Linked DNA regions of Homo sapiens. The protein of the gene in region 1 interacts with the protein of each later gene in a biochemical or structural test. Each region holds a gene or a part of one and is shown on either strand. Other genes may lie near its edges.

The links.
Region 2: the proteins of AKAP8 (region 1) and AMY1A form a complex in vitro, tested with the Homo sapiens proteins (one study listed by BioGRID).

What each region holds. Positions count from the first base shown.
Region 1 is NC_000019.10:15,369,720-15,385,529, forward strand, and holds the start of AKAP8 (A-kinase anchor protein 8), read right to left. Parts: upstream 10,069-15,810; 5' UTR 10,013-10,068; coding exon 9,994-10,012; intron 7,296-9,993; coding exon 7,257-7,295; intron 4,917-7,256; coding exon 4,884-4,916; intron 4,347-4,883; coding exon 4,067-4,346; intron 3,622-4,066; coding exon 3,132-3,621; intron 2,629-3,131; coding exon 2,499-2,628; intron 2,280-2,498; coding exon 2,233-2,279; intron 461-2,232; coding exon 427-460; intron 1-426. Other genes in the region: AKAP8L (A-kinase anchor protein 8-like), read right to left, coding at 10,403-10,711, 10,798-10,893. UniProt on the Homo sapiens protein: Anchoring protein that mediates the subcellular compartmentation of cAMP-dependent protein kinase (PKA type II).
Region 2 is NC_000001.11:103,653,288-103,668,392, reverse strand, and holds AMY1A (alpha-amylase 1A precursor), read right to left. Parts: upstream 12,634-15,105; 5' UTR 12,465-12,633; intron 12,109-12,464; 5' UTR 12,063-12,108; coding exon 11,895-12,062; intron 11,550-11,894; coding exon 11,403-11,549; intron 10,600-11,402; coding exon 10,402-10,599; intron 9,954-10,401; coding exon 9,723-9,953; intron 8,984-9,722; coding exon 8,850-8,983; intron 8,034-8,849; coding exon 7,911-8,033; intron 7,817-7,910; coding exon 7,717-7,816; intron 5,737-7,716; coding exon 5,618-5,736; intron 5,508-5,617; coding exon 5,382-5,507; intron 4,063-5,381; coding exon 3,873-4,062; 3' UTR 3,839-3,872; downstream 1-3,838. UniProt on the Homo sapiens protein: Calcium-binding enzyme that initiates starch digestion in the oral cavity.

The DNA.
Region 1 (15,810 bases):
GGCCCACAGCACAGCCCAGGGCAGGCGACTGAAGGAACTGGACAAAAGGAAGCCCCAGAGAAAACACTTCAGGGAAATGCACTGGCCGAGGAGGGCACAGAAGATGGGCTGGGGGCCTCTTCTCTCATGTTTCTCCTTCCCTACAAACTTCGACTGTGGTGGACACCCAAGGCTGCCCCCCATCCCCACTGCAGCCCACATCGGGTCAGGCAGACAGACCCGTTTCCAGTAAATGCTGCCCCAGACACTTTGAAGCAAAGTGTTGGCTGATCGCCACGGTCAAGGCCCATCTGGTGGCTGCAGCCCCTCTTCCCCCACAGCCACGGGCCCCTCCATCCAGGCCCCTGGCTTGCTCAGAAGCTGGGCAGTAAGTGCGGGGCAGCTGGGAAGACACAGGAAAGCTGCAAGGGACACGGTGATGCCTACCTCTTTGCCTCCCAGAGTCGCAGAGTTCATCCTCCTGGAAAAGAGTATACACAAAGTCCGGCAGTGAGCTGGTGTGTCCAGACTCTCCACAACCAGCCCAGTCCCTGGCCACTGCCTGGTGGGCAGTCTCACCCAAGACCTAGGTTGCTATGCCACCAAGAATGAGCCACAGTGTGTTAGGACCAGCCTCCGGGGCTCAGGACAGGGCCTGTGTGTCCTGTTATTACTCCTAGTTGCCTTCAGAGATTCTGTGACAATCACCTTGCTAAAAAGCCATTCACCCACCCTCTCTCGGTTCCTCCTAAGCTGCAGAACTGCCTGCCCCATGACAAAGACCCACCCGTACAATTCTATGAATGGAGCCTGTTCACCAACCGTAGGGAGATAGAGTCTCACTTGGGGGATGCCAGTTCTGGCATTCTTCATAGAAAATGGGTTCCACCACGTTTCCCGAGCTTTTGTTTATATTTACCCAATGTCTTTTTTTTTTTTTTTTTTTTTTTTGAGACGGAGTCTCGCCCTGTCTCCCAGGCTGGAGTGCAATGATGCAATCTCAGCTCACTGCAACCTCTGCTTCCTGGGTTGAAGCAAATCCTCTGCCTCAGCCTCCCGAGTAGCTGGGACTATAGGCGCATGCCGCCACATCCAGCTAATTTTTGTATTTTCAGTAGAGACGGGGTTTCACCATATTGGCCAGGATGGTCTCAATCTTGTGACCTCGTGATCCACCCGCCTTGGCCTCCCAAAGTGCTGGGATTACAGGTGTGAGCCACCGCGCCAGGCCTATATTTACCCGATGTCTTAATAACAATCACGTATAGATAAAAACGATTCAACTGAGAATCTGAACAGAGCTGACTCCTTAGGCAGTGAACATACGGCTAAATTAACAATCAGCAGGTTTACAGAGATTCCTAATCTCAAGACCAGCAAAATAGGGATCAAGTGAGACTCTGAAAACCTGAAAAGCCACCATCTCCTGCCTGTTCCCTGCCTGTGTGACTCTAAGGACTTGGGGAAGGCCCTCCTTCCCACTCTGGACCTCCAGGCCCTACACCTCCAACTTGGATCAGAATCTACACTGGGGTGGCTGAGGCACCTCCCCAAGAGCTTGGGGTGGTCCCGGCTATGAACTGGCCCCACGTGCTGCCTGCCTGTGCCTTGTTGTGAGGATGGAAGGATGAGGACACCAGTCAGCGGCACCCGGCACGGAGCTGGCGGCAAATGAGCCTCCAGCCTGTGCTTGGAGGCTTCAGCCCACAGTCCCTGCACTTACTGGCCTAGAGACCAGGGAGAGGAACTGGGAGCTTTTTTCAGAAAAGGAATGTTTGTTGTAAGTTGAAAACTTTTTTTTTTTTTTTGAGACGGAGTCTCCCTCTGTCGCCCAGGCTGGGGTGCAGTGATGCAACGTCAGCTCACTGCAACCTCCACCTCCCAGGTTCAAGTGATCCTCCTCCCTCAGCCTCCCAAGTAGCTGCTACTACAGGCAAGTGCCACCACTCCTGGCTAATTTTTGTATTTTTAATCGAGACGGGGTTTCACCATGTTGGCCAGGCTGGTCTCCAACTCTCGACCTCAAGTGATCCACCCACCTGAGCCTCCCTAAGTGCTAGGATTACAGGTGTGAGCCACCGTGCCGGCTAAGGTGGAAAACTTTTAGAAATCTAGCTAAAAGTCAGGGTCCTGAATCCACTCAGAGGTAGTCAAATCTACCATGGCAGCTGCTCCTGCCCCTTTGTGAGGAAGGGTGATTAAAGAAAGAAGAAATCCCACACTAGAGGCAAAAGGGCTGCCTGGTGGACTTACACCCTTGAATTCTTCATCTCCTGAGCGGAAGTCACCAGCTGCGTCATCTGCCAGACACAAAGAAAGGAAAAGTCAGTCCCCGGAGAACGGTCCCATCCGGTTTCCGCCCTCCCAAGCTCGCCATCCAGGGTGAGTCTGCCCTGACCACAGTGGGGTTGAAACATGCCACCTGCGAGTGTCCACGACACAGATGGGGCAAGCAGAGCCCCCAGCAGGCAGCCGACCCATCCTACATCTGTCTGGCCCACCTGGCCCCCAGGACATACCATTTTCGGAGAAATCTCCTTCACTGTCAACCCGGGCCAGTTTGGTGTCTGGCTCCTCGTAAAGTTGGAACTGCTTCCGTTTCCTGCCCGTGCCATCTGGTCCGAAGCGGTCAAACCCTCTCCTCTTGGGCTACAGACAACAAGCACACCCCATGAGCTACTTACGAGGGCCATGAAGATGCCCCACAGAAAAGAACAAGGAGGTTGTAGGATCAGACAACACAGGCACAAAAGGTCTTTTCAAAAAGCAAAGAGACAACATAATTTGAAACTAAAAAGAAAATCATGCTGAGTGAAAAGAAGCCAGGAACAAAAGGCCACACGTTTCGCGACTCCATTTGTGCAAAATGTCTAGAACACACAAATCCAGAGACCAGTGGTGGTTGTCGGGGGCTGGTGGGGGCGGGGAAGAGACAGGGGTGACTAATGAGAAGAAGTTTCTCTTCTGGTTGACATAAATGCTAAGATTAGACTGTGATGGTGGGGATGGTTGCACAATCCTGTAAATTAACTAAAAGTCGAACTGCGCACTTAAAAACATTTAAGTGAATGTTGAGATGGGGAAATTTTACCTCAATAAAGCTGCTAAAAAGAGAAGCGAAGGCGGCCGGAAGGAACCTTGCGAGGGCTTACCCGATCCCGATCCCGCATCCGAGGCTGCGAGCGGCCACATCCGTAGGGCATGGTGCTGTCATAGCCGCCCGCCCCCTGCATGCCCATCACGCCGTAGTCGGGAGCCATGGACTGGGAGAAGAGGGACGGAGGTGGCCGGCTGGGGGAGGGCCCTCCCAGGCCCCGTCCACCCACGTAGTTCAGCTCGTTCCAGGGCGTGGACAGGGGCTCAGAGGACGCAGCGGGGGGCACGAAGGGGTCGCTGCGCATGAAGGTGCCAGGGTTGCTCCGGTCCTGGAAGCGGCCCTGGCCCCGGCCCCGCATGAAGCCATCAAGGGAGCCCCGCTCCCGGGCTGGGTCTCGGCATTCACTGTACTGCCCCCCAAAGCTGCCATTGCGGTCGGACCCCAGGTCGAACTCATAGTCGTAGCTGTAGCTGGGGCGGTAGGGGTTGTGCTCCGGCAGGCAGGGCCTGGAGTCATAGGACTCGAACGGCTGGAAGCGGAAGGAGCTGCAACAGAAGCACAGCCCATCAGGGGCGGTCACCCCGATCACCCACTGCCACACTCCCTCAGTATAACCTCGACGCCCCTACATTCAAAACAGCAAACCAAACCACCCTGCATCCCACCTAAGTGCTGGGATGACCAAAACTGACCAACACCCTCCCTGGAACACTGCTGAGCAGGGGACAGAGCCCCTGGCCACAGGAATAGCATGATGTAGAAAAAAGGAGTCTCGGGGAGCTTAGCCAACAACCACGCCCAAGCCCCGCCATGAAGAAAAGCAAGGAAGTCCTACTGTAACATCACTGACCCCCCACGAGCCCAACTCGTCAATGCCACACCCAAGAGGGAGGCGGGGACAGGCCCTCCCTCAAGAGTGGGTGCCCACTCCCATGCGCACAAAGGTGGGGATGTGTGGGGTCCCGGGGGAGGGCTTGGGTCCATAATCACCTCTCCCGGTCCTGTATGCCCTCCCCACCGCCGCCGCTCCCGCCCCTGCCTCCTTCCTTGGACATCATGTCCAAACGCTGGTTGATCTTGGCAATGAGGGAGTCGGAATTGTCGGTGCATGGCTCTGGGCCGTAAGAGGCCATGTGCATGGCAGGGGCCCCGGCCGCCAGGCCGCCATCATTGGCCTTGGCGGCCTCCCACGAGGCTGGGCCGTAGCTGTAGGTTGCGCCTGTGGTGACACTGGTGTTCTGGGCGCCATAGTAATTGTAGTTTTCATAACCTGTCACAGGGGGAGGAGCCAAGTCAGACTTCAGCAGCCACGAGGCCTGTCCATGGTGGACACAACCGGGGAGGGGCACCCGCTGCCACGGAGAAGGAAAACGGGTGTGGGACCCAGTGCTGCTGGCATCACTTCACACTGCACTGTGACCTGCCAAGAGGCAGCAGGAGGTGGCCAGAGAAAGGGGCAGCCTCAGTGCCGAGCGGCGGGTTTTCCATGCCAGACGCTAGGACCTGTTCCCCATTCAAAGCCGGGTGACTGAGAGCCTGGGAACAGCAGTTCCGGCTGCTGACAGGCCCCACAAAGGACCGCTGCTCCCAAAGCACGGTCGCAGTCCTCCCCATCATGCTCCCCTGAGGCCGCCCACCACAGCCCTCTGCAGTCCCCCCATATACACAACAGCAGCCGTGGCTGACTGCGTCCTCAGGAACAGAGCCAGAAAGTCCACGCCAGACCTCCCTGACGGGCTGACCCGCCTGGCCTTCAGATCAGAGGCCCACTTGCCCGCCCACAGACCCCCCCCACAGAAGGGCTTACCTTGCCAGCTGGCCACACCAGTTCCATATGCACCTTAGGGGAAACAGAAACACACAAGAGCCCTGTTTGCAGAACGAAGGCACTGACACCCCAGCTGTCACCTTGCTCCACCCTCCACAGCCCCAGGGCCAGGGCTTCCCTCCGCAGCGCTCAGGGAGACACCCTTGGGTGTTTTTAGCTCACTCAACTCCTACAGAGCACTAGGCTGAGAGGCTGAGCACAAGCAAGCCCTCTATCCCGGGCAAGGCCAACCGTCCGTCAGGGCAAGGGAAGGGACGCCGCACGCTCCCCAGGAAGCTCGTCCACTGTGGGCTGCTGGCCAAGAGGTTGGCCAGGCCAGGCCCCAGGCAGAGACCTCGTAAAGGGTCAGTTCCCATCAGAAGCCAGAGTGCAGGCGCTGCCAACTGCACAGCGAAGCATTGGTGCAAAGTCACGTCCTCAACTCAAGCGAAAAAGAGGACGTTATGTGCCACGAGCGACTTGGAAGGCCTCCTCCTGAAACACCGGGTGGTGGCTCAAAAGCAGCCCCACTCCCCATGTTGCCTGAGTCAGATCTCAGGCTCAGAAAACAAAGGAAGCCCTCGTGCCCTAAAACACGGGCTGGCAGAAAGGAGAAAGCCTCGCCAGCAGAGAGCATGCACTGGTTCGCCACACAAGCCTAGCATCATGGCCCTGACTCTAAAGCAGGGATCTGCAAAAAGTCCAGCCACACCCAGCCCACTTCCCGCCTTGGCACAGCCCTTAGGATTTTCGAATTTCGGTGCCCATAAATAAGTACCAGCACACTGCCCGTAGCCCTGTGCTCTCAGGCTCTGCCCTCAGCTAAGGATGAATTTTACGTTTTTAAATGGTTGGGGTAAAGTTTCTAAAGTGTATTCAATGACAAATTTTGACATGAGATACATCACTTACACACTGGATCAAAACTCAGAGAACTATACAAATTAACAAAAACTATGAGCTATAGTGAATAATATCACATCAACATTGCCTGATTAATTGTAACAAATGCATCACACCAATGCAAGATTTTTTTTTTGTTTTTTTTTTTTGAGATGGAGTCTCGCTCTGTTGCATGGGCTGAAGTGCAGTGGCGCGATCTCGGCTCACTGCAAGCTCCACCTCCTGGGTTCACGCCATTCTCCTGTCTCAGCCTCCGGAGTAGCTGGGACTACAGGCGCCCGCCACCGCGCCCGGCTAATTTTTTTTGTATTTTTAGTAGAGACGGGGTTTCACTGTGTTAGCCAGGATGGTCTCGATCTCCTGACCTCGTGATCTGCCCGCCTCGGCCTCCCAAAATGCTGGGATTACAGGCGTGAGCCACCGTGCCTGGCCTTTTTTTTTTTGAGACAGGGTCGTGCTCTGTCACCCAGGCTGGAGTACAGTGGCATAATCACAGCTCACTGCAGCCTTACCTCCTGGGCTCAAGCAATCTTCCTATCTCAGCCTTCTGAGTGGCCGGGACTACAGGCACGCACTGCCACGCCCCACTAATTTTTCATTAGTTGGATAAAAGGATCACTTGAGCTCGGGTCTCGAACTCCCAGGCTCAAGTGAGCCTCTTGCCTCAGCCTCCCAAAGTGCTGGGATTGCAGGCGTGTGCTGCCTCGCCCAGCTAATGAAAGATCTTACTAATGAGGCCAGGCGTGGTGGCTCACGCCTGTAATCCCAGCACTTTGATTATGGGATTGATTATGAGGTCAGGAGTTCGAGACCAGCTTGGCCAACATGGTAAAACCCTGTCTCTACTAAAAATACAAAAATTAGCTGGGCGCAGTGGTGGGTGCCTGTAATCCCAGCTACTCGGGAGGCTGCGGCTGCAGTAAGCCGAGATCACACCACTGCACTCCAGCCTGGGCAACAGAGCAAGACTCTGTATCAAAAGAAAAAAAAATCATACTAATGAGATTTTTAGTACACTCACTACAGGTGTAGTGTACACTCAGTACACCTGAGTGGAGGTGGGTGGGCGTATGAAACTCCACTACTCAATCTAAAGCTGTACTAAAAAGTCTGGTAATTATAGAGAAAAAACACCTCGGATATACCCTCAGCTATTTACTCAGAATAACAAAAATATTTTGCCAAAATAGAGTATTCACTAACACGCAAAAATTAGGAACTTCAAATTGTATTGTCTGTAAGTAACTACTGGCATTGTCCCATCCACTCTTTCACACATTTATGACTGCTTTCCTGCTACAGAGACTGTGGAGCCCATAAAGCCACAAAGATATTCACTATCTGATCTTTTACACAAAGTTTGCTGACCCCTGGGCTACTACTCTCCCTTGACCCAAGTTCAGCTCTGCCATGCTAGGGCCTTGAGTTAGGGGAAGCCCACGCCTCACCCGCAAAGCAGAGCCCACTTACCCTGGGTGTTGGCAGGTCCAGCACTCCACGCCCCGTAGCCTGCAAGAAGACCCCGTGAGTTAAAATTCTATTTGTCACACCAGAGAACGGGTCCTTTTGGGGGTACTCCTAAAGGGATCTCCTTACAGTTCAGTGCCAGCCTTAGAAGAAGGAAGACTCCCCCCCACCCCACCAAAAAAAAGCCATCACACAACTGGCTAATGGCGTCATCGCATTCCACCTGGCTGAGATCAAAGCAGAAAAAGAAGGGTGGGAAGTGGGCTTGGAAGTCAGCTCCGCCCTGCAGAGGGACCTTGGCCAAGGACCTCACCTCTCCAAGATTTCATCCACAACTGAGGCTAACACAAGACAATCCACTCAGCATGAGGACACGTTCCCCCACCCACCACACAGCTAGGAAACCAGTTCAGAGTGCCATCACAAGTACTTCGTAACTGAAAACAAGCATGGGAATTTAGTGACATAAATTGCATCTTTCTAAGCTGCACTTCCTGCCACTTTTTGTTTTTTTGAGGCGGGGTCTTGCTCTGTTGCCCAGGTTAGAGCGCAGTGCCGCGATCTCGGCTCACTGCAAGCTCCGCCTCCTGGGTTCACGCCATTCTCCTGCCTCAGCCTCCCGAGTAGCTGGGACTACAGGCGCCTGCCACCACGCCCGCCTAATTTTTTGTGTTTTTAGTAGAGACGGGGTTTCACCATGTTAGCCAGGATGGTCTCGATCTCCTGACCTCGTGATCCGCCAGCCTCGGCCTCCCAAAGTGCTGGGATTACAGGCGTGAGTCACCGCGCCAGGCCCTTCCTGCCACTTTTAAGGCCTCCACGGATCCCCTGGACCTTTAAGTCCCAGAGCCTTCGCCTGGCCCTAAGGCATCAGACAGCACTCTTCACCCCTCCACACCCCCCGCCCACTATGGCATCTGTCTGGTCCCTCCAGGAAGGAGAATGGGAACTGTGTTCTCTTTATTTCTGTGTCCCTGGGGCCCAGCACTGAGCTGCGCGCGGGTGGCCACCATGCCTGTTAAATGACTTCACTTTGATGAGGCAGGAACATATCCATGTCTCCCTCACCAGAACAACTCCCCCGCCCCCGGCTAAGTGCCTAGTGCGTGCCGATACACCGCAAGCACCCAGCAAACCCTGTTGTCCGGAATGCCATTCAGAGACAAGGGAGCTAGGCTCATGGGTTACGAGACTTGACCCAGTCATACTGCTGAGTTTTGCCCTCTGCTATGCTACGCCTTCCCCTCCGTCATACCGCAAAACCTTCTAAATTCGCATCCGTGCAGCAGAAAGGCAGACTGCAGATTCCAACAGCAAGTAACCAACCTCGAGAGACTGCTTCTCTGTGAAGCTCTAGTGTAAGTGGCACGCACTATTAACCTTAAAACGCTCCCGGAAACACAAGAAATCAGGGAAGCTTAACTATCTCCAGTGTGTCTGAAAGGTTTTCGGCAGGTAGGAAGAGGGGGTAAAAAAAACCTCTCCAAACTAAGAATGAAAAGAAGGAATACAATACCTGCAGAAAAGATCTGATGGGAAAGAAGGGAAAGAATGGTGAAATCTACCCAGGCTGCGGAAGACCAGGAGAGCCAGGCTGAGCCTTCGCTAGGACCCGGAAGACACCAAAGCACACCGCGCACGCTGCCGCCTCAGGACCGAAACCTCTCTCTGCAATTTCTGGTGCTGGGATACTTTTGCCCTGCCACTTCTCAAGATCGACAACTTCTCGAGCTCCTGCAGCCAGGATCAGACCACTAGCTTCTCTACAACCAGTCGAGCTCCACCCAGCATGTCCCAACTATCCCCTGTGGGCAAACTTTGCTCCCAAAAGGCTCTGATTCCAGAAGCAGGGAGCAGGCAGCTCGAGAAGATCGGCCCTACTGCAGGCCAAGCGCTAAATCCTAGTGGGGAAAGGACACGTTCCCTCCTGCACAGCCCCTCGGCCCCTCCAGGCCACCACAACAGACTGCCTAAAGGAGAACTGCCAATGTCACCAGCCCCAGGGCACATCAGGTTTCCAGCTTTATACGAACACTCAGCATCTGCCCCTCACCATCCTGTCCCAAGCCAGCACGCGCCGGGTACAGAGCTGGAGCCCGGCGAGGCTGACTCTCGCGCCGGCAGCACTCGGCCCCACCGCGCTGCACCGGGGACTAAAGGCCCGACCCCGCGCAGCCCGACGGCTTCCGGGACAGGCGCCCTGGGCCACGTGAGCCCAGCGGAGACCCTACACGGCCCCGCGGGCCTAGGGCAGGTCGGGAGAGAGGCGGCCCCCGCGGTCCGCCCGCGGCCCCAGACCCAGCTCCCCGGGTCCGACCTCACAACCCCACGCTGTAGCTCCGCCCCCCTAGCGCCGCCATTTTGTGGCGTCTTCGGAAGAGGAAGCCGGGAGTGCAAACCCCGGGGTCGCTGGGGGCCGGAAGGACTCCGCCGAAGGTGAGGGGCAAAAACGGCCCACACTGTCTAAGACGCCCCCACGAAGCCCACCGCGGCGTCTGCCCCAACCCCGAGTCCCGCCCGCCTCCTCGGGGCCTGGCGGCCAATCCGCACGCAGAGCCCCGGGAGCGACGGCGCCAAAGCCCAATGAGCGGCGCGCGCGCGCCCTGGCCGCCTCTCCGGAGGGCCCAGCTGGGGCAACCACGCTCGGGACGAAGGCCCGGCCGGCGGCAGTCTGCGCAGCGGCTGCGTCGCCCGCACAGAGCCTTCCCTCCCCGCTCCGCACCCAGCAGCCAACACAAACCTCCGTAGCCCTGGTCCATGTCTTCGACGCGGCCCACCAGCAGCCCCGTTTACTAGGCGACCACAGCACGCATGCGTTCAGCGCACCTCCGCCATCGACTACTGGAAGACCAGGCGCACACGTCACTACTTCCGCGCGCCCCCATTGGCTGGTCTTCACGAGGGCCCGCCCTCGCCGTCCCAGCTGGCCTTTCGGGCTGCTACGATCCAGCTCCGTGGCCTAATGGGAGTTGTGGTCCCACCGCGGTGCCCGACGGCCCGGCCCGCGCGCATGCGCACCCCGCCCCTCTGCCCACCCCGCCCCGCCCGCGCGGCACAGTAACAGAGAAACCCGGAGGTGGGATGGGAAAACTTTATTAGGTTTGGTTTCCAGCTTCGGCCACGCGGGCTCCGCCCGCCCCGAGCTCGGGTCACGGGGCGCCCCCGCCGCCCTCCTCGTCGTCCTCCACGTCGAGGCCCGGGATGCCGCGGATCTGGCGTTGCAGCGCCCCTCCCAGCAAGGGCACGGCGCCCTCCTCCTCCTCCTCTGGGGGCGGCGGCGGTGGCGGCGACACGGCCCCGGGGGCTGGCTCTGGGGGCACGGGAGGCTGCGCCGGCACGCCCTCTGCGCCCTCCGAGATCCCTGCCGCTTCGCCCTGCGCCCCCTCGTCCAGGGCACCGCCCTCAGCCTCCTCCTGCTCCTTCTCCTCCTCGGGGCTGTCGGTGAAAGGGTTCTCGCCCTGTGGGGAGGGGCGCGGACACTGAAGGGAGGGAGCACAGGCGGGGACTAAGCTGGGGACAGGGCAGGCCCGGACCAGTGCCTCACCTTCAGGTAGCGCTCCAGCTTCTTGCTGATGAGCTTGTTGTTGAGAATACTGCGGGCCACCATGAGGGAGGACTTCTTGGACTGCTCCATCATGAGCTGCGGGCAGGGCAGAAGGAGCTGGAGAGGCTGCTCTGAGTGCCCTACAAGTTGCTGCCCCGACCCTGCCAGCTTAGAGGGACCCCACCCCGCCCCTGCACCCACGCACTTCCAGCCCCACCAACGGAGGGCCACTCCACAAGCATGGAACCACAACCTATCTGATCTTTGTTCAAATTCCCTCTCCTTCCACACCACACTTACTGTAGGTAAATAAAAATACAGATCTATATATCTCTAACTTTACGGCTGTATTACAGAAATCTGATTTGCTTACAAAAAAGCTATAAGCAGTGAACAATTAAGAAACTAAGAGCCAAAGGTGGGTGCAACCTGTAACAAGGTGCCAACTAGGCTAATAGGCAAGGAGCACTTTGGGGCCAACGGGGAAGATATAAAAACAGGAACAGATATTTAATGAAACGTCTTTTTTAACCCACAGAATTCCAAGAATGAAGAATTATTCCCAGTCATGCAAGGGTGAAGAGAGTCTTCTCTGCTGGTGGGAGGATCAACTGTTTCCGTATTTTTTGGAAAGCAGTTTGACACAATGTATGAAAAGTAAAAATCTGTCTCATTAATCCCTTCCCAGAACGTATCCTAAATTTAAGAACTGGAAACATGCGTGCACACTGATTGTAGTGGTGAAAAATGGGAAAACACCTAAACGTTCCTCAGTGCAGAAGAGGTTAAATAAATCGTACATTCAAAAGAACATCATGCAGCCCTTCAAATCGGGCTCATCTCTGCACTGGCATAAGAAAGGTGTATAATATAGTACTGTCTGCAGAGCATGCCAGAGCCATTTTGTCTGGAAGGATTTCCATCAATATGCTGGGCCATCTCATGGTGGGAGTACAGGCAAATCTCACTTTGATCATTATAAAAACCATAAGGTAAAAGAAGGATATTTTTGGTGGGGTGGGAGAGCCCATTGAGTCCTTCCCACTCCATTTACATGTTTCAGAAAGCCTTCTCACTTGCTGTTTCTACTCTCTCCATCTTCATTTTTTTTTTTCCTTAGCACGTTTTCTCTACTACTGGAGGAAAATATTAACAGACATCATACATGCTCACAATAAACTAAAGATACACAATTAGGATACTACTATAGACCGTTCCCCCAGTGACTCTCACTTGCCAACAGTTTATCCTCCTGGTTCTAGATGCCCAGATAACCACACCATAAATTCTCCCAAGTGAGGCACATTTATGTTGCTTCCAGATCTTCTCCACAATAACCCAGCAACACTAGAATAAACTTGTACACTTCCATGCTGGTGCTTTTCATTCTAACCAGGTTTGGTTTCAAAGTGATAGTGCCCAATTAACTGCAGAACATTTGCAAGTCATGCTTCTTCCACCTGTGTTAAAACAATGACCTGGTCCTCCTGCCTGCCCATCAGCACTGGATGTTGTCACTGTTGGGTATTTTTGCTGTGGATAAAAGACAGAAGAATCTGTGCTGCTGCCTCCCACGGCATTTCCCTGCCCACCGGCGAGTGAGTGCTCTGGTAAGCACACTGGAACACCCGCCCACAGTTTATAATTTTCTAACTATTTTCTGATCTTGGTTTTCATTTTTCACATTTAAATTTTTTTTTTTTTTTTTTAAGACAGTCTCGCTCTGTCGCCCAGGCTGGAGTGCAGGGGCTCTCAGTTCACTGCAACCTCCGCCTCCCAGGTTTAGGCAATTCTCATGCCTCAGCCTCCTGAGTAGCTAGGACTACGGGCACGCACCACCACACCCAGCTACTTTTTTGTATTTTTAGTAGATACAGGGTTTTCCTATGTTGCCCAGACTGGTCTTGAGCTCCTGAGCTCAGGACCTCCACCCATCTCGGCTTCCCAAAGTGCTGTGATTACAGGCGTGAGCCACCACGCCCAGCCAAATTTTCTAGAATTTGATACAGATTGAGTATCCCTTATTCAAAGTGCTTATGACCAGAAGTCTTTCAGATTTTGATTTGCATTATACTTACCAGTTGAGCATCCCTACTCCAAAAACCCAAAATCTGAAATGCTTCAATGAGCATTTACTTTGTCATGTCTGTGCTGAAAAAGTCAGATTTTACTGGGCACAGTGTCTCGTGCCTGTAGTCTCAGCTACTCTCATGAGGCTGATGCAGGAGGATTGCTCAAGTTCAGGAGTTCAAGGCTATAGTGTGCAATGATTTCACTTGCGACCAGCCACTGCACTCCATCCTGCACAACATGGCAAGACTCAATTCTTTTTTCTTAAAGAAAAAGGTTTTGGATTTCGGAGCATTTCGGATTTTCAGATGACGGATGAACTCAATCTGTATATGTTATGAGGTAGAGGGTCCAAAATTTTCTTTTCCAGAAATGTACAAAACACACCATTTATTTCCCTACCAAATTGGCATATAGGTCTACCATCCCTTATCTATAAACTGGAAATCCAAAAGGCTCTAGAAAACAAGTCTTCCCCCAAAATTCATTTGGTGGCTAAATGTGAACTGACATTACATTTTTCATTTATATGTAAGTCATGTGAAGAATTATTTGTGACTCAACTACAAGGCGCTTTCCCCAGATCCTGTTGGAGAGGTTAGTGCTAATACCATATTGTCTTTCTTTTTATTTTATTTTAGAGATAGGAGTCTCACTCTGTTGCCCAGGCTGCACTGCCATTGTGTGATCACGGCTCACTGCAGCCTCAAACTCCTGGGCTCAAGTGATCTTCCCATGCTAGCCTCTTGAGTAGCTGGGACTATAGGCACTCACCACCATGCTTGGCTAATTTTTTATTTTTTGTAGAGACGAGATCTCACTATGGTCAGGAACTCCTGGGCTCAAGCAATCCCACCTAAGCCTCCCAAAGTGCTGGGATTGCAGGTGTGAGCCACTGCCCCCAGCCTTGCATATTGGTTTTCTGAAGCTGAAAAATTAATTCTGAGGCTTCTGGCCCTAAGGTTTCAGATAAAATATCTGTACTAACTTTAACAAATTACTAAGTCTGAAATATACTGAGATCTTTTGCTAGACTCTCTATTCTGGTTCCACTGTTTCATTACTGTGCTAATTATCACTTTTTTTGTTTTTTAATTGCAGCAGCTTTGTAGTAAGTTTTAGTATTTCTGAAATCAATCTCTCAGCTATTGTTAGACTGAATTTTACAATGTAAAACTTTAAAATAATTTCATTTCATTCAGTCCTACTCCCCGACTGATATTTTTGACTAGAAATGTGCTGTCTATATTAATTTGGAGAGAACTGGTTTTTGTTTTGTTTCACTATTAAATTGCCTATTTAAGAACACAGAACATTCCTCCATTCATTAAGGTCTATTTCTTTTTTTTTTTTTTTTTTTTTTTGAGATGGAGTCTTGCTCTGTTGCTCAGGCTGAAATGCAGTGGCATGATCTCAGCTCACTGCAACCTCCACCTCCAAGGTTCAAGCAATTCTCTGCTTCAGCCTCCCAAGTAGCTGAGATTATAGGCACCCACCACCCCACCCGGCTAATTTTTTGTATTTTTAGTAGAGACAGGGTTTCACCATCTTGGCCAGGCTGGTCTTGAACTCCTGACCTAGTGATTCACCTGCCTCCGCCTCCCAAAGTGCTGGGATTATAGGCGTGAGCCACCGTGCCCGGCTAAGGTCTTATTTCATATCCTTGGAGTATTTGCAGTTCTTAAAAGATCTCAAGCCTTTCTTCTTCCCTCCCTGTTTTTTTTTTTTTTGAGACGGAGTTTTGCTCTTGTTGCCCAGGCTGGAGTGCAATGGCGCGATCTTGGCTCACTGCAACCTCCGCCTCCCAGGTTCAAGCGATTCTCCTGCCTCAGCCCCCTGAGTAGCTGAGATTACAGGCGCCCACCACCACGCCCAGCTAATTTTTTGTATTTTAGTAGAGACAGGGTTTCATTATGTTGGCCAGGCTGGTCTCAAACTCCTGACCTCAGGCAATCCACCCGCCTCAGCCTCCCCAAAGTGCTGGGATTACAGGCATGAGCCACCATGCCTGGCCCTCAAGTCTTTCTTCTTAAATCTGTATTCTTAGCTATTTCATACATTGTGTGGTTATTTTAAGTAGTTTTTTTTCCATTTAAATTTCTAACTGGTTAATACTAGAATAGAGAAACACTACGACTTTTTGTACGCTATTTTGAATCCCATCCCCTTACCAAATTCTATTAATTCTAAGAACATTTTGCTGGGATCATTCAGCTTTTCTAAGAGCATAATCACATTATTTGCACATAAAGAGAGTTTGCATTATACCAATAATATTGCTAGATTTTTTGTTTTTGTTTTTGAGACGGAGTCTCGCTTTGTCGCCCAGGCTGGAGTGCAGTGGCGCGATATCAGCTCACTGCGAGCTCCGCCTCCCAGGTTCATGCCATTCTCTTTTTTTTTTTTTTTGAGACGGAGTCTCGCTCTGTTGCCCAGGCTGGAGTGCAGTGGCGGGATCTCGGCTCACTGCAAGCTCCGCCTCCCGAGTTCACGCCATTCTCCTGCCTCAGCCTCCCAAGTAGCTGGGACTACAGGCGCCCACCACCACGCCCGGCTAATTTTTTGTGTTTTTAGTAGAGACGGGGTTTCACCGTTTTAGCCGGGATGGTCTCGATCTCCTGACCTCGTGATCCGCCCGCCTCGGCCTCCCAAAGTGCTGGGACTACAGGCGTGAGCCACCGCGCCCGGCCTTTCATGCCATTCTCTTGCCTCAGCCTCCCGAGTAGCTGGGACTACAGGCGCCCGCCACCACGTCTGGCTAATTTTTTGTATTTTTAGTAGAGATGGGGTTTCACCGTGTTAGCCAGGATGGTCTCGATCTCCTGACCTCGTGATCCACCCACCTCGGCCTCCCAAAGTGCTGGGATTACAGGCATGAGCCACCGCGCCCGGCAACTGTTGCTAGATTTCTTAGGGAACCATCCCTCCATTCCAGAAACAAAC
Region 2 (15,105 bases), on another chromosome or scaffold:
AAATAATTATAAGATATCATGAAATATTTTGGAGTTTTATTAACATACTATAAACTTGCATCAATAATGCTTTAAATTTCTACCTCTCTGTAAGTCACACTGAAGTAGAAACTTTGTTTTCTAGGTTCGTATTTATGTGGATGCTGTAATTAATCATATGTGTGGTAACGCTGTGAGTGCAGGAACAAGCAGTACCTGTGGAAGTTACTTCAACCCTGGAAGTAGGGACTTTCCAGCAGTCCCATATTCTGGATGGGATTTCAATGATGGTAAATGTAAAACTGGAAGTGGAGATATCGAGAACTACAATGATGCTACTCAGGTAATTTTTTTACGAGAGTGATCTGAATAAAAGAGTAATATATGCCTTTTCTTGTAGACATGTAGCTAATTGAATTTCATTTAAAATAGGAATTTAGATCTCTTAGGGACAGAAGTTAACAAGTTTGACTACTTTAAGAAACTCAAATCCATATTTAAGAACTTTCAAATATTGATTTAAGATTTTTAATCAATATTTAGAGTCACAGATTTTACCTAAATTTTCAAAACCTACAGCACCACCTCATGAGATAGGATTTTTTTCTGCATAGAGTCTTGTTGGCCCTTTGCCAAAAACCTCTAATACCCAGATTTCTTCCACTTTTGTGTTCCTCTGTCAGCAAGCAGACTCTATGCCCCATTTGTAGGGAAAAAAACTCCGCATTCAACAGTTGGGAGGAAGCCACCCTTGAGAGACAAATTCTAGCCTCAGTGCTGTTCCCATCAGAAGGAGGACAGCCATTAAATCCATATGTTCTTTTGAGGCACCTGTTCTGCTTCCAACAACATTGGCATTTAATCAGAAAGGGGATTTTGTGTTTAAAAGGCAATGGGTAAAATTTTCTGGGAATGCACTGCTTTTCCAGGGCCATAGCTAGAGGAAGCAGGAATAGGGTTAAAACACTCCCTCTGTTAAAGTGTCTCACCCAACTTTATCTACTGTACAATCTCCTGGGAGGCCTAGGAACCCAGAAGGGCAGTGAGATGAGGCATTGTGCTGGTAAGCATGACTACCCCTGCCAACTAGCACCTCCAGATACATGGGTGCAATTCATGCTTGCATCCATGGGCTGCACCTATGATGGTTGCCAGGACCCAAAGGAGATGGGAGGAAAGAGAAGAGGGACACCCCTGTAATCTTTCTCTTCAACCTGGGTCACTTCAAAAGTTGAAAGGAGACTAAGGGACACCTTCTACTCCCCTCTTTTTATGCATGGGTAACACCCCATCTTCAAGCCTGCATTCCCCTTGAGTTATTCTTTAGACTTCAGAGCCTGAAGTTCGCTCTGGGCAAGTGCCAACTTCTCTCATGTATAGAGGCCTTCCAGGATATAACCCAAGTATTTAAACTCTCCTAGAAGGATGTTATGTTACTCTGAAACCCTAACTGCTGTTGAGAGACAGGCAGCCCTACAGGTAGCAGAAAAAATCAGAGATGAGCAGCATGTTTCCTATAGCCAGTCAAAAAGGGAAAGAGGGTGAGAAACAGGCAGAATCCCCATTCCCAGTAGGAAAAGAGGCAGTATCCCTTGAAAACTCTAATTGGAACTCTACTAAGCCCATAGATGATTGAAAAATAGAAACACTTTCAGATGTATACGGTAGAAGTCTTACAGGGGACCAGAGCCAAACCTGTTAACTACTCTAAGCTATCCATGATAGATCAAAACCCAGATGAAAATCCCTCAGCCTTTTTATAAAGGCTGAGAGAGACTTTGGCAAAACATGCTTCCCTATCTCGTAATTCAATTGAGGGACAGCTCATCTTGAAAGACAGGTTTACTCAAGCAGCTCCTGATATTTGAAGGAAGCTACAGAAACAGGCTATAGGACTAGAAGGCACCTTAGAAAACCTTCTAAGAGTAGCCACCTCAGTCTTTCATAAGACGTACTAGGAGGAGGCTCAGGAAAAGGAGAGAAAATAGAAGAAAAAGTCAGACAGAGGGTACCTTGGAATGGAATCCAGGCCTGAGACTCCTTGAGCTCACTGTTCAAGACACCCTCATAAACTGGTCAGTAACAAACTTTGCTGCATGTCTCCGACTTGTTTTATGTCCTTAAGCATAACCTGTAACCATGTGGTAGTACCACTTTTCAGCCGTTGCCTTTTTACAATGGTGACCCAGGTTCAATCCCAGCCTGGGTGATGAATACTTTCCAGTTAACAACTGTGTGACGTTTAATCATCTCGTGCTCCGCCATGAAAAACTCTAACTGCCTTTCTGAAATCTTCCTTTCTCTCAACTGACTTTAAAGGTTCTAGATCTGGTAAAAGCTGCTTACCACCACTTATAAAATATCTTGTATACTAACGGTGAACTTATAACCTAACGGAGAGTTTTTAGTTTCCCCTGTGATGTTACCTTTGGTAAAATTCAAAAGCCAGAAATATTACCTGCTTGATTTAGCTAAAGTCAGGAAACAGAAGATGTCAAAGGATTTTCTGAAAGGGTGCTGAGCTTGATTAAAAGTGGATATTCAAGTTATAGGTATATTTAAAAGACCTGCATGTTTTTGTCTTCTTGGATCGTGTTTTTCTTGAAAAGAACTTTTCCATTGACTGAATTACTGTTCTCCACTCTGTCTTTCCACTCTTAATGCACACAAGATAACTTCTGGTGGCCTGAAACGTTTTGGGAAAAACAGAAAATGCATGATGGATTCCATTTTGGGAGAAACCTCTGTTTTCCTCATGGAATCCCAGAATCTAGAGGCTGATCAATCCTGCTCAAAATCTGTTTTTGTCTTACAGCTATACAAGTTGATTAGGCCCTAGAAACTTCGTGGTTTGCTATCCCTGTTCTTAAAGGGCTCTACTGGGAAGCCAGTAATGCAATTAGGAAATGGGACGAGAAGAAATCTTAGAGCTACTGGATCTTCTTCTGTTTGTCTGTGTAGCAATATATGTGTTGTGTGTGATGTCTGTAACGAGGACCAATTGATTGCCTTAAATAAAAATAAGCACTTAAATCAAATATTTTAGAGGAAAGTTAAAACCGTAATGCCTTTTAGTTTATGTGTTTTTAAACTCTAAGAAATAAAAACTGTTTTAAAGATCAAATTGGAAAATGCAAATATCATCAATATGTAAATAGCAGGTTTAAATCACATAAATTAGATAAAAGGCTTGCTAAATATTTCAAGGTTGTAGGCTGCCTACTTTACAACTTGGTAAGGCCTGGGGACATATGAAATTAACCATGCCCTAACTAGAATGGAAAAAGTCAGACTTTATCTGCATCTAGTACATAATTAAAACAACTTACCAGGTTTACATTAAAGTTAAAAATTGCTAAGATTGACCATAAAAATATGTAAATAAGACAACTAAAAATAAATTTACATGCAAGGTGTGTAGGAACACTTAAATGTGTTTGTGGTAAAAGATTATAAAAAGGCATAAAAATGTAAATGTTGCCTATGGAAAAAGGATTCTTTTGAAACCTATGTAAGGGTAAAATTTGGCTTTCCTTCCCTTGTACAGATTTTTCATGTAATAGAGAAGAATAATGAAATATTTGGTTTGCCTTGTTGGTAGAATGCCAAGGAGAGAAAAGAGTAGACAGGAGACAAACTGTTTGGAAAGCTAAGTCTTACCTCTTAATGAGTAAAGATTGTTGCCTAGTTTTAAAATTTTTGAGTCATCCTTTTGCCAAAATAAATAACTTATGTGTAACCTGGAATTGTATTTCATACTATCAAGTGTCTTAAACCTCTTTTTACTAATTAGAGCTTTTATTTAAAATTAATGATATGTAACTATTACTGTATATGTAAGAAAAGAAACACACTTAGCTATTGCTTTGCGGATTTGCATTTAATTTTAAATTTTACAATTTAGATTCAGCATGAATTGCAATAAATGGATCTTCAGCAGAGTTACTAATAGAAAAATGAGCTTTGCCATCATCAGAAACGTAGATTTTAATGCCTGTGCAGTTGCCATTAATTTTATCTCCAGAAATGACATCACAGTATGTGCCAGCAGGAAGACCAGTTTGCAAAGTTAAAGAAAATGTCCTGTAAAATAAAATTTCAGATTTAACTTCAAAACAATGAAATCAAGAATACAGACTAACACAAATAAACAGCATAACTTTATGTTTTAGAACCCTAAGCAGTGAAGTCTCATTAAGAAGAAAACCCATATGCCTCCCTAGTAGGTGTAAACAGCTTTCTAGGACCAAAAGTAACCTTACAGAAAACCTACCAATTTCCTTTTCAGTAGTGAAAATATAACCGAAAAATCAAAGTTGAAGAATATCACCGAAGATTGGCGGGAGCGGTCACATTTTGATAAAGTGCTACCTTGGTAAAATCAAATTTTTTCTCAACTGAACTTAATGCCAATTACTTTAAAAATTTAAAGGGTATTATTTTTTTAACCTTCTTTTATTCTACATGAGGTCAAAAAGAATTTAGGGTGTACATAAAAACAGTCTAGCATTTGTATGAGGAAGTGATAGTTTGAAATATAAAGCTTTTTCACAAAAGATTTTTTTGGTATTTTCATCCACAAAAGAAGGAAACTAAGGAAATAGACACGCATTTTTTTGGCAGGAAAGAGATCAACTTGACTTATATATTTTTGTATTTATTTATTTTTCATAAGTGAAGTATAATTTATACTAGAGTGAGCTAAGTATGAGTGTCAGTTGGCCTTGGACAGAGACAATTCAACTGTTTGCAAGGAGGTCTTCTCAGCTACAGTTTCGGGAATCATTTATACTACAGCCAAAGGATACAAAAATCACAGATGAAAGGCCAATAATGAGAAGTTTCAGAACTAAAACTCAAGTCTCCTGAAGCAAATCATTAACCACAAGATACATATTATTTATCCATATGCTTTAAAAATGTTATTTGTCACAAGGAGACAGAGAAGTGAAGAAAGTATACCAAAAAACTAGGTAGAGCTGTCATTGAGAAAAAGAGAAATAAAGATATTTTAGTACTGAGGCAGCATTTTTCCATGATTAAAAGAGCAGGACTATAAGAAACGTTCTTTTAATGATTTCACAATCCTTCTATTAATTACTTTGTGTATTTTGTGGCATGTGTAGGTAAGCATATGAATGTGCATTCTATATATGCATAAGATATTGCAAGGGTGCACAGAAAGGATTCTGCTTACAACAGAAAGCACTTATGAAAACAGGAGAACGAAGGAGTAACAGCCATCATCCTTTTGCTTCTACCCAATTTTGATCTCTATTGTCTTCTCGCTCCACTGACTACATGATTTTTCAGATATGATAAATGTCAATGAACAGAAAAAAAAAAGAATAAACCAAGAACATACTGGTACAAAATATTATTTTTAATTGATATTTACTTACCAGTCATCATTGTTGAAAACAATGAATCCTCTGTTTCCTCTCCCAAAAGCCACTTGGTTGCTCCCATTATCATACCAGTTTGTAAAAGGCTGGCCATCCACTACATTGCGGAAATTAACCATGTTCCTAAAAACACAATACCATATAAAACGTTGATATTCTTAAACTTCAACTGTTTTAAATAAAGTGCTACGGAAATTTACTATTAGAGGACATGTCTAAATACATATTCTCACCTTATTTGGCGCCATCGATGTTCACAGACCCAGTCATTGCCACAAGTAGTGTCTGGATTAATAGTAACTTCTTTAGTTACTCCATTATCATTTGGTGGCCCAACCCAATCATTAACATCCTTAATTACAGGAGGAAAAGCCAAATTTTAGCATATATATATTTATCTCTTCCTTCTCCTTTAAACCAAACCCAACCTATCCTGTTACTTGTGTCTCTGCATTCAGTGACTTTATCTAGAATCCAATGCCTTCATTGATTTTTATAGCCCTTTACTGGGTCTTCATCATCTCTCTATCCTCTGGTTCTCTTTTGCCATATTTCAAACAAAGGTAGCAAATTGTTATCCTCTCCTTTTCATTCCAAGGCACTGCAAAGACTTCTTTGCTCTGTCACCCAGGCTGGAGTACAGTGGCATGATCGTAGCTCACTGCAGCCTTGATCTCCGAGGCTCAAGCGAACCTCCCATCTCAGCCTCCCAAGTAGCTAAGACTGTTGGTGTGCACCACCGCACCCAGCTAATTTTTTTTTTTTTTTAATTTTCAGTAGAGGCAAGGTCTTGCTAGCTTGCCCAGATAGGTCTTGAACTCCTCAGGTCAGCTGACCTTCTCAGCTGGCCGCACACAGTGCTGGGATTATAGGTGTGAGCCACTGCACCTGGCCTGCAAGGGCTTCTTAACATCACTGTAAGCCATGCAATGGCATTGAAATGGGAAGGGCATTAGTACTAGAAACACCAGGATTAAAACATAGGCTCTATTACTAGTAGCTGAGAAAATTTAATCAATATAAATAATTTCTCTGTGTCTCAGTTTCCTCATTTGTAAAATGAGAATAATGAGTTCTTTTGCTATAAAAATTAAGTAATATATGTGAAAATGCCTTGAACATGACATATGCTAAATAAATATTGGAGGCCGTCATGCTTCTTTTTAGATAAATGTACAAAATACTACATCTGAACATTTTTTTTTTATAAATTGACCATATTTTTAGTATTATGCTTTTCTGATTGGCACTTTAAGAAATCTTCATTAAAAAACACAGAGTAACCCTAGGAAGTTTATCAGTGTTCACCTTAAAATCACGTCATATGGTGAAAAGTGAACAAAACTTAAGAGTTTATAGCATGCAGCAGTCCTGTCAAAGTGGGAATGTTATAGTAATAGAAAAAATAAAAGAACTCTCTGACTCCTAACAACAGAAATAAGACCAATTAGTAGAAATTATAAGAAGTTGTCTCAATATAAAAGTACACCTTCTAAATATTAAAGCTGTTTAACAATAGAATCAGTTGTTATACATAGTAGCGGACTTCTCAAACTGAAAGGAATCTAAAAAAAGCTAGCTAGATATCTGTGTGACTCATAGGAAGGAGGAATTTCTGCTTTAGTTCTGAAGTCTCTGATGCTGTTTCTCAACCCTTTAGTTTAAAAGAAAACCTTCTACTAGCTTTCCAAATATCTTTACACTCTTATTTCTCTGTTCCTTTTTGAAACTACTCAGCAGAGTGATGTCTTTACCATACTCCCAAATATTTTTCTCATTCTTACCTTTCTTGGAATACTCTCTATAAATTTCTATCCTTTAGTACATACAATTTCCTTCCTCTTATAGTATACTTTCCCTATTTAACTCAGCTGAACTGGATCATTTGTTTCTATTCCATATAACTTTTTAACAGTATTTAAAAGACATTTATATTGTTCTCACTACGGGCAGATGATGTTTTAAGTTCTCTACAAGGGTTGGCATCTATATTCTTCCAATTAAACCTGAGGAAGGTACGAAGTATATATTTTAATCCCTGTGCCTAGCTCTTATTTTTAAGTGGTTTTTTTAATTTTTATTTTTATTTTCCCTGCGGGCTAGGGGGATGTTTGTCATATCTCTGAAAAAGCTTGCTATTCTTTTTCAATGGAGAATATAAAGTTTATTCCTTTAATATAACCTGCATTACTAAATCACAATCCTGTATCAGGTTTACAATAATTAAATATTTGTTGAATAAATAAACACTTAATAGTTGTCATATTAAATTAGGAGAAGATTGCCTCTTTTTTCTTGAGAAAAGGATATTTTGAACAACTCCAAAACTTACTTTTCCATTTTCAAAATATCTTGGCCAACGGTAGCTTGACATTACTCGTGTAAATCCATAAGGATGAGCAAGCATAAATCCAACTGCCATTTTGTACAGCCTGAAAGTTACATAATTATATTATCATAGAATATCACAATATTCATACCATCATTAAAAGAGGTGTTAAAAAAATAGAGAACTTGGTTTTTTACCTAGCATCCCAGAAGGTAAGTATAGAGGCTCCTCCAGCGCCATGTCCTCGTTGATTGTCATGGTTATCCACAAAGACAAGCGCTCTGTCAGAAGGCATGAAACCCCAACCTTCTCCCCAGTTCCTATTTTTGAAACATAAGATATACGTTGATGTATCATTTCACAATAGTTTGAGAGTAACTCTACTGTGCATCTCTTTCTGTAAGGCATGGCATCTGAAGATTAAATTCTTTCTCTAATTAGATGGTTACTCTGTAAGATATATATATATACACACACACACACAAACACACACTCACATATATATACACACACACCTCATAAACAAACACACGTGTGTAATCTACATATATATAGTCCATATTTGTATATACATGTATGGAATACTTATATTCATATTACAAATATAAAATGTTTGTTATTAAAAAATTTCCTTTCAGAGGTTTCAGCACATTATCATTTAGAGGCACTCCAGAAGGATCAATATCCACATCACATTATACAGAATGTCAAACTAGATTAAAATAAGGCTTTAATATTGTATTGTTATAATATAAATCATTTTACATTTCCAATTCGTATAAGTAAATACAATAGCATGGACACTTTGTACATACTTTATAAATGATAGGATCATTTTAATAATAACCTGGCTTTAAAAGATTATATGCAAACATCAGTCAAATCCAGTATATTCATCTTGTACGCAGACAGAAACTCCTAGGGTAAGTTTAGCGTTCCTAGGCATACTGTCTTGTGACAGACACTCTAAATACAAAAGATGATTGATTAGAGTTTAGGGCACTAGAATACTTATCATTAACAACTGACTCCTTAATAGTTGTCTGAATAAGAATGTTCCAGAAGATAACTCGCACTGGGGTAGTATGACTAACAGATCTATGAAATAGTTCAGGGGAAAAGTTGTATTTATTTACTTTAAGTAAGACATCTTCTCTCCATTCCACTTGCGAATAACTGTGCCGAGTTTTGCACCATACTTGAATTCTGTCACCCGGCCATTACCAAAGTAGTCACTGCTTTTAATTGGCTCACCACCCAGATCAATTACCTAGAAGAAATTTAGGAAAAAAAAACATTTTGCATAAGGACTTTAAAGCATTTTAACCGATAAGTTTATATTATATAAAAATTAGCTTTCAGCTATTTCTGAGTTATTTTAGACTTGTTGTGCTTTGTTCTTTAGAGACAGGGTCTTGCTATATCGTCCAGGATGGTCCCAAACTCCAGGCCTCAAGGAATTCTCCTGCCTCAGCCTCCCAAAGTGCTGAGTTACATGCAAGAGCCACCACGCCTGGTCCTATTTGTTATATGAAACGCTCAAAATCGTTTTCTTATTCTTATTATCTTCATCGGTAATATTCTTATATTCTTTTTTTGATAAAGTATACACTACAATATTGAAAGAAACATAATGTCAAAGTTACCTGTTGTCCTGTGAGAATACTTACCTAATTTTTAGTCTTGTACATCAATGATAATAATAACAGCTCACAGGAATACGATATTTACTATCTGACTGACTTTTTTTGATAAATATTAACTCATTTCATTTTCCAAAGAAAATAAAGACATAACTATTATCAGTATCCTACATTCTGTGTACCTCCATAAAACCTGTTGTGATAAAGAATTAGATATGCTGTATGTGAAGAAGAGGAGGTTAAAGAACACTGTTTTAAGGAAATGACTCAGTCTTTATCCTACAGAAATTGCATTTTTAATTGAATCTGCCGTGAATTTTCTAATGAATAGGATGATATTTTATATGCCTATATGTATTGACGTACCTCCTGGTAAATGAAAGGTTTACTACCTTCCGGGAACCAGTTACTGTTTAGATTATGCAGTTTGTCCAAAATTGCCTTTATGTCTCCAGGCCACATGTGCTTGGAAGCATCAATTCTGAACCCTGCAACACCAATGTCAATGAGATGGTTCATATATTCGGCAATCTTAGAACGCACATAATCCTTCCCCAGTGCAAGATCGAGAAGACCAGACAGACGACAATCTCTGACCTGTTGAGGTAAGAATGTTATGATTGATTAATAAAACCTCACTTTTCGCCTGAGAATCCATTTGATTATTCATTTATTCCATGATTCCTCAAGAGATATTCTATGGTGACTTCCTTGCATTGGACACTGGGGATGCTCACATTCTACTATAGATGTATCTTGGAAATATTTTCTAATAGAAAATAGAGAACTTAGGAAATAAAGTCGATGAGTTTTTCAATTGGTTGGGAGCTTTTTAAAAGTGGACAAATGTGTATTGATTAAAAATCTTAAATCAATATTTAAAGGTTTTCAAATATGGATTTGAGTTTCTTAAAGTAGTCAAACTTGTTAACCTCTGTCCCTAAGAGATCTAAATTCATATTTACAACGAAGTTCAATTAGCTACATGTCTACAACAAAAGGCATATATCACTCCTTATTCAGATCACTCTCGTAAAAAAATTACCTGAGTAGCATCATTATAGTTCTCGATATCTCCACTTCCAGTTTTACATTTACCATCATTAAAATCCCATCCAGAATATGGGACTGCTGGAAAGTCCCTACTTCCAGGGTTGAAGTAACTTCCACAGGTACTGCTTGTTCCTGCACTCACAGCATTACCACACATATGATTAATTACAGCATCCACATAAATACGAACCTAGAAAACAAAGTTTCTAATTCAGTGTGACTTACAGAGAGGCAGAAATTTAAAGAATTATTGATTAAATTTATAGTGTGCTAATAAAATTCCAAAATATTTCATACCTTATAACTATTTTCCTACAAGATCAAAAATCAACTGTGAAAGGAAAGTAATGTGAACTAAACACCTACATTCATTCCAGACACTTGGCCAAATATATATAGGAATGATAAACTGAGAGAACCGGAAACTACCATAAATAGGAGGAAAGGCAAAAAGCCCATTTTGGGGAGACACAACTCAGATGAGACTGAAAAGGTTACTATTTGGGAAATTTCAGTGGGTCACCAGGAGAAAGCCTGTACTCTCTACTAAGCTTGGAAGACAAATAAGGTAGCTATTCATCTCAAATTCTGCTCCTCATTAAATAGATAAGCTACCTATTCACCACAAAAAAAACCCAAGAATTAGGAATGGAGACACAAGTCATCTAAAAATGAGAGCAAATATTGTAACTGGAATTAAAATTCCTCACCAGAAAATCCTTCCAGGAAATATGGATAGTTATAGCGGTTAAAATTTGATGTTTTGCTTCAGAAGTAAACTCTGCTATAAACTTTAACTTATCTCTTTAGTAGAGAGCACATATACAAATATTTTCAAAAATTGAACATAAGGTGACAGTTACTTTTGAGTTTTAAAGTATGAAGTAAAATTAAAACTGATATGGAAAACTTTCTGCTCAAAAGGAGCAAGAAAGAAGAGACAGAAATCATTTTCCTATCTGTTATTTTTAAAGGAAACTAGAATTCACTTACCCCAACATTGTTGCATCTAGTCACCATGTTTCTAAATTCATCTTCATTTCCAGATCTTGTGCATAATTTATAGCTAACTGGTTGGTATCTTTCCCACCAAGGTCTGAAAGGGTTGTGAATGGCAACATTTTCATTTGGTGGAGAGACCTACAAATTAAACAGTCTTCATAAGTACCAAATTCTGTCTTACTGTATATCATTGAATGTTCTAGAATCTAATCAATAATACAAAAGATTCTTGAATCTTGGTATAGGCAGCTATCTCTTGAAAATATTAACAGCACATCGGAGGGCTCTTGTTGAAGAAAGATTATATCAGAAACAAAATATACAGTTGCAAAGAATACTACATTGTTTTTTCCTCAGAAAATTCTTTTACTTAGAATACTTACCTGTGAAGTAAAATGTTGCCCAAGCTTCACGTAGAAGATCAGAATAGTGTTTACTACAAGCACAGTGAATTCTGCAATTGATACTATGAATCATACCCACCTGAACCCCTCCAAATCCCTTGGGAGCTAAATATCGCTCACATTCAAGAGCAATATCAACCCATCGCCATTCAAACAGATGAACAATAGATGTTCGTCCTTGTTGTGTATTTGAGGAATACTGAGCCCAGCAGAACCCAATGGTGAAAAGCAACCAAAAGAGCTTCATTTTGCTTTGAAGTTGTCAGTGTCCTTTCCAGAAACTATTTATATTCCTGTAAGAAGCACATTTTACAATGTAAATAGTAGCATGAATAAATACTTGAGGGCAAACTGTTTATTCATAATCTGAAAAGGATTATCAATAATAATCCTAACTGGTGAAGAACATCAAAAAGTCTCTCATGGAAATCATCTCAATGACCTCTTAGACATTAATGTTTCTTTTCTTTTCTTTTTTTTTTTTTTTTGCATATGGTAGCACTTTTATTTTTCCTTACACAATGACATGTTGCTGTGGCCTAATGTTCTCACATAACAGCAGAAAACCAAAATTTGTTGTCAACTCTTAAAAGATCGAGAATTGCATACTAAAAAACTTTACATAAATTAAAAGGATGAATACATTTACCGGTATAAATGCGAACCGCTTCCAACTCAAGGCAAGTAACAGCCCACGGTGCTCTGGTAGATAACGTAAGCTAAGAAAGGAAACTGGGTCCTATGGCTTGGACTTTCCAACCCTGACAGACCGACAAGACGGAAACAACTGGTTCAGGAGCCCTTCCCAGCCTCTAGATAAATCTCAGAACACTCAGCCCTGACACATTAATACCCTGCACGGATCAGAGACTGCTGACCACACAGACTCACCAAGCCAGACTTGTCTTCCACAAGCACGTTTTTAGCCATGAAGTGACCAAGCCACGTGTACTAAACACTGACATCAAAGGTATGTACAGATACCAAGGGGAAGAGTTAACTTGAATGCCAGGCCAAAATCAGCAACAAGTTCTACAATCCAGTGCTGATATTGAGAAGAGAGAAAGACCCTGTCCTCTTGTTTTATATTGTTTTCTATTCAGTAAAAACAACAAGGAAGCAAAATCAAAGGCACAAAACCAGGCCTGGGCCTGGTTGGCCTAAACCCAGTAGTTACAAATCAACTTATGATTTAGAAGCCGATGTTATTCATAGATTCCAGACATTGTATAGAAGAACATTGTGAAACTCCCTTCCATATTCTGTTTCTCCCTGACCACGGGTGCATGTAGTCCTTGTCGCATATCCCTGGCTTGTTCAAATCAATCACGACCCTTTCATGTGACATCTTTAGTGTTGTGTGCCCTTAAAAGGGACAGAAATTGTGCACTTGGGGAGCTCGGATTTTGAGACAGTAGCTATCCGATGCTCCCAGGTGAATAACACCCTTCCTTCTACAACTCGGTGTCTGAGAGTTTTGTCTGCCGCTTGTCCTGCTACATTTCTTGGTTCCCTGACCTGGAAGCAAGATAACTGATGGACGGCCGAGGCAGCTCCTTAGGCAGATTAGGCATGCCTTGTGGAGTAAGGCCGGGGCATCCCTCAGGCTGCCAGGGACTCTGGCCAGCCTGAGGGATGGGATCCAAAGAGCGCTCCCAGGTAGGAAATGGCCCCGGTTGAACGCCTCGCCAGAGCAGTGATCCCCGCGGAGGATTAACACAGTGGCTGAACACCAGGAAGGAACTGGCACTTGGAGTCCAGACATCTGAAACTTAGTAAGACAAGTCTTTTCAACTTGCCCCACTCCACCTGAGCGGAAGCTTGGCCTGATCGCTCATGGTGTGCCTGCACCCATATCAATTTCCATATAGAGATTCCTAGTTACAGCTAGTTTTAGATCCTCTACAGTGGTAAAAGGACAGGCAGCAGCAGTAGTAGTAGCAAAGGGACATTTATTTCAGGAAAGTTCTCGCTCCACCGGCCAAGAGAAGCCAGCACCTAAAGTTCTGTTTGACCCAGAGCTCGAGGACTCAAGGCAGGAGATGGCACCAACAGTGCCCTCAACCCCTTATCCAGTGGGGAGGCCCCCTTCTCCTGAGCCCACAGCCCCTAGACCACCCAGAGTAGACAAGAACAAAAGTGAAACTGCGGGAAAATCCACTTCCCTGGCAGCCCGCTTAACGGCCCAAGACGGGAATTCAAATGCCCTGAGAGAGCAGCGATATACTAGGACAGATGAGGTCAGACATACGGTAGAAAGGCATGCTTTTGTGTATCACCCTTTTACCTCTGCTGAACTACTCAACTGGAAAAATAACACTCCATCTTACACTGAAAAGCCTCAAGCCCTAATTGACTTGCTTCAAAGAATTATCCAGACTCAGAATCCTACTTAGGCTGATTGCCACCAGCTACTCATGTACCTCTTTAAAACACATAAAAGGCAACAGGTGCTGCAGGCAACAGTTAAATGGCTGGAGGAGCACATCCCAGCCAATTATCAAAGTCCCCAAGAATACATAAGAATTCAGCTGCCAGGAACGGACCCTCAATAGGATCCAAATGAAGGACCAGATATGGAAAGGCTAAGAGGGTACCGAGAGGCATTAATTGAAAGGTTGAAAAAAGGGGCTCAAAAGGGTACCAATGTAAATAAAGTTTCTGAAGTCATCCAAGGAAAGGAGGAAAGCCCAGCCCAGTTCTATCAAAGACCGTGTGAGGCCTATTGCATGTACACTCCTTTCGATCTGGAGAGTCCTGAAAATCAGCCGTTGATTAATACGGCCTTAGTTATTCAGAGTGCAGAAGATATCCAGAGAAAATTGCAAAAACAGGCTAGGTTTGCAGGAATGAAAACCTTGCAGTTACTGGAAAGAGCTAATGAAGTATTTGTAAATAGAGATGCAACAAGCGGCCAAGAAAGCCGTAAGGAGGGCGAACGCCAGGCCAGGTGAAACGCTAGTTTGCTGGCTGTGACAATTAGAGGAATTCTCCTGAAAAGGCAGAAAAAAGGGGGTTCTGGGAGGAATGCCCTGTCCAATCACTCACATTTGCAGCATGACTAATGTGCCTACTGTAAAGAAATAGGACATTAGAAAGATAAATGTCCCCAACTCAAAGAAAATCAGAGTGATGCAGAGCCAAAGACCTCAAACCAAGATGAAAGGATTTTGTTCAATCTAGCTGAGGGGCTGCTAGAATTAAGGGGAACAGGCTCAAATGCCCCCAAGGAGCCCATGGTCAGGATGACAATAAGGGGCAAGGACATTAAGTTTTTAGTGGATACAAGA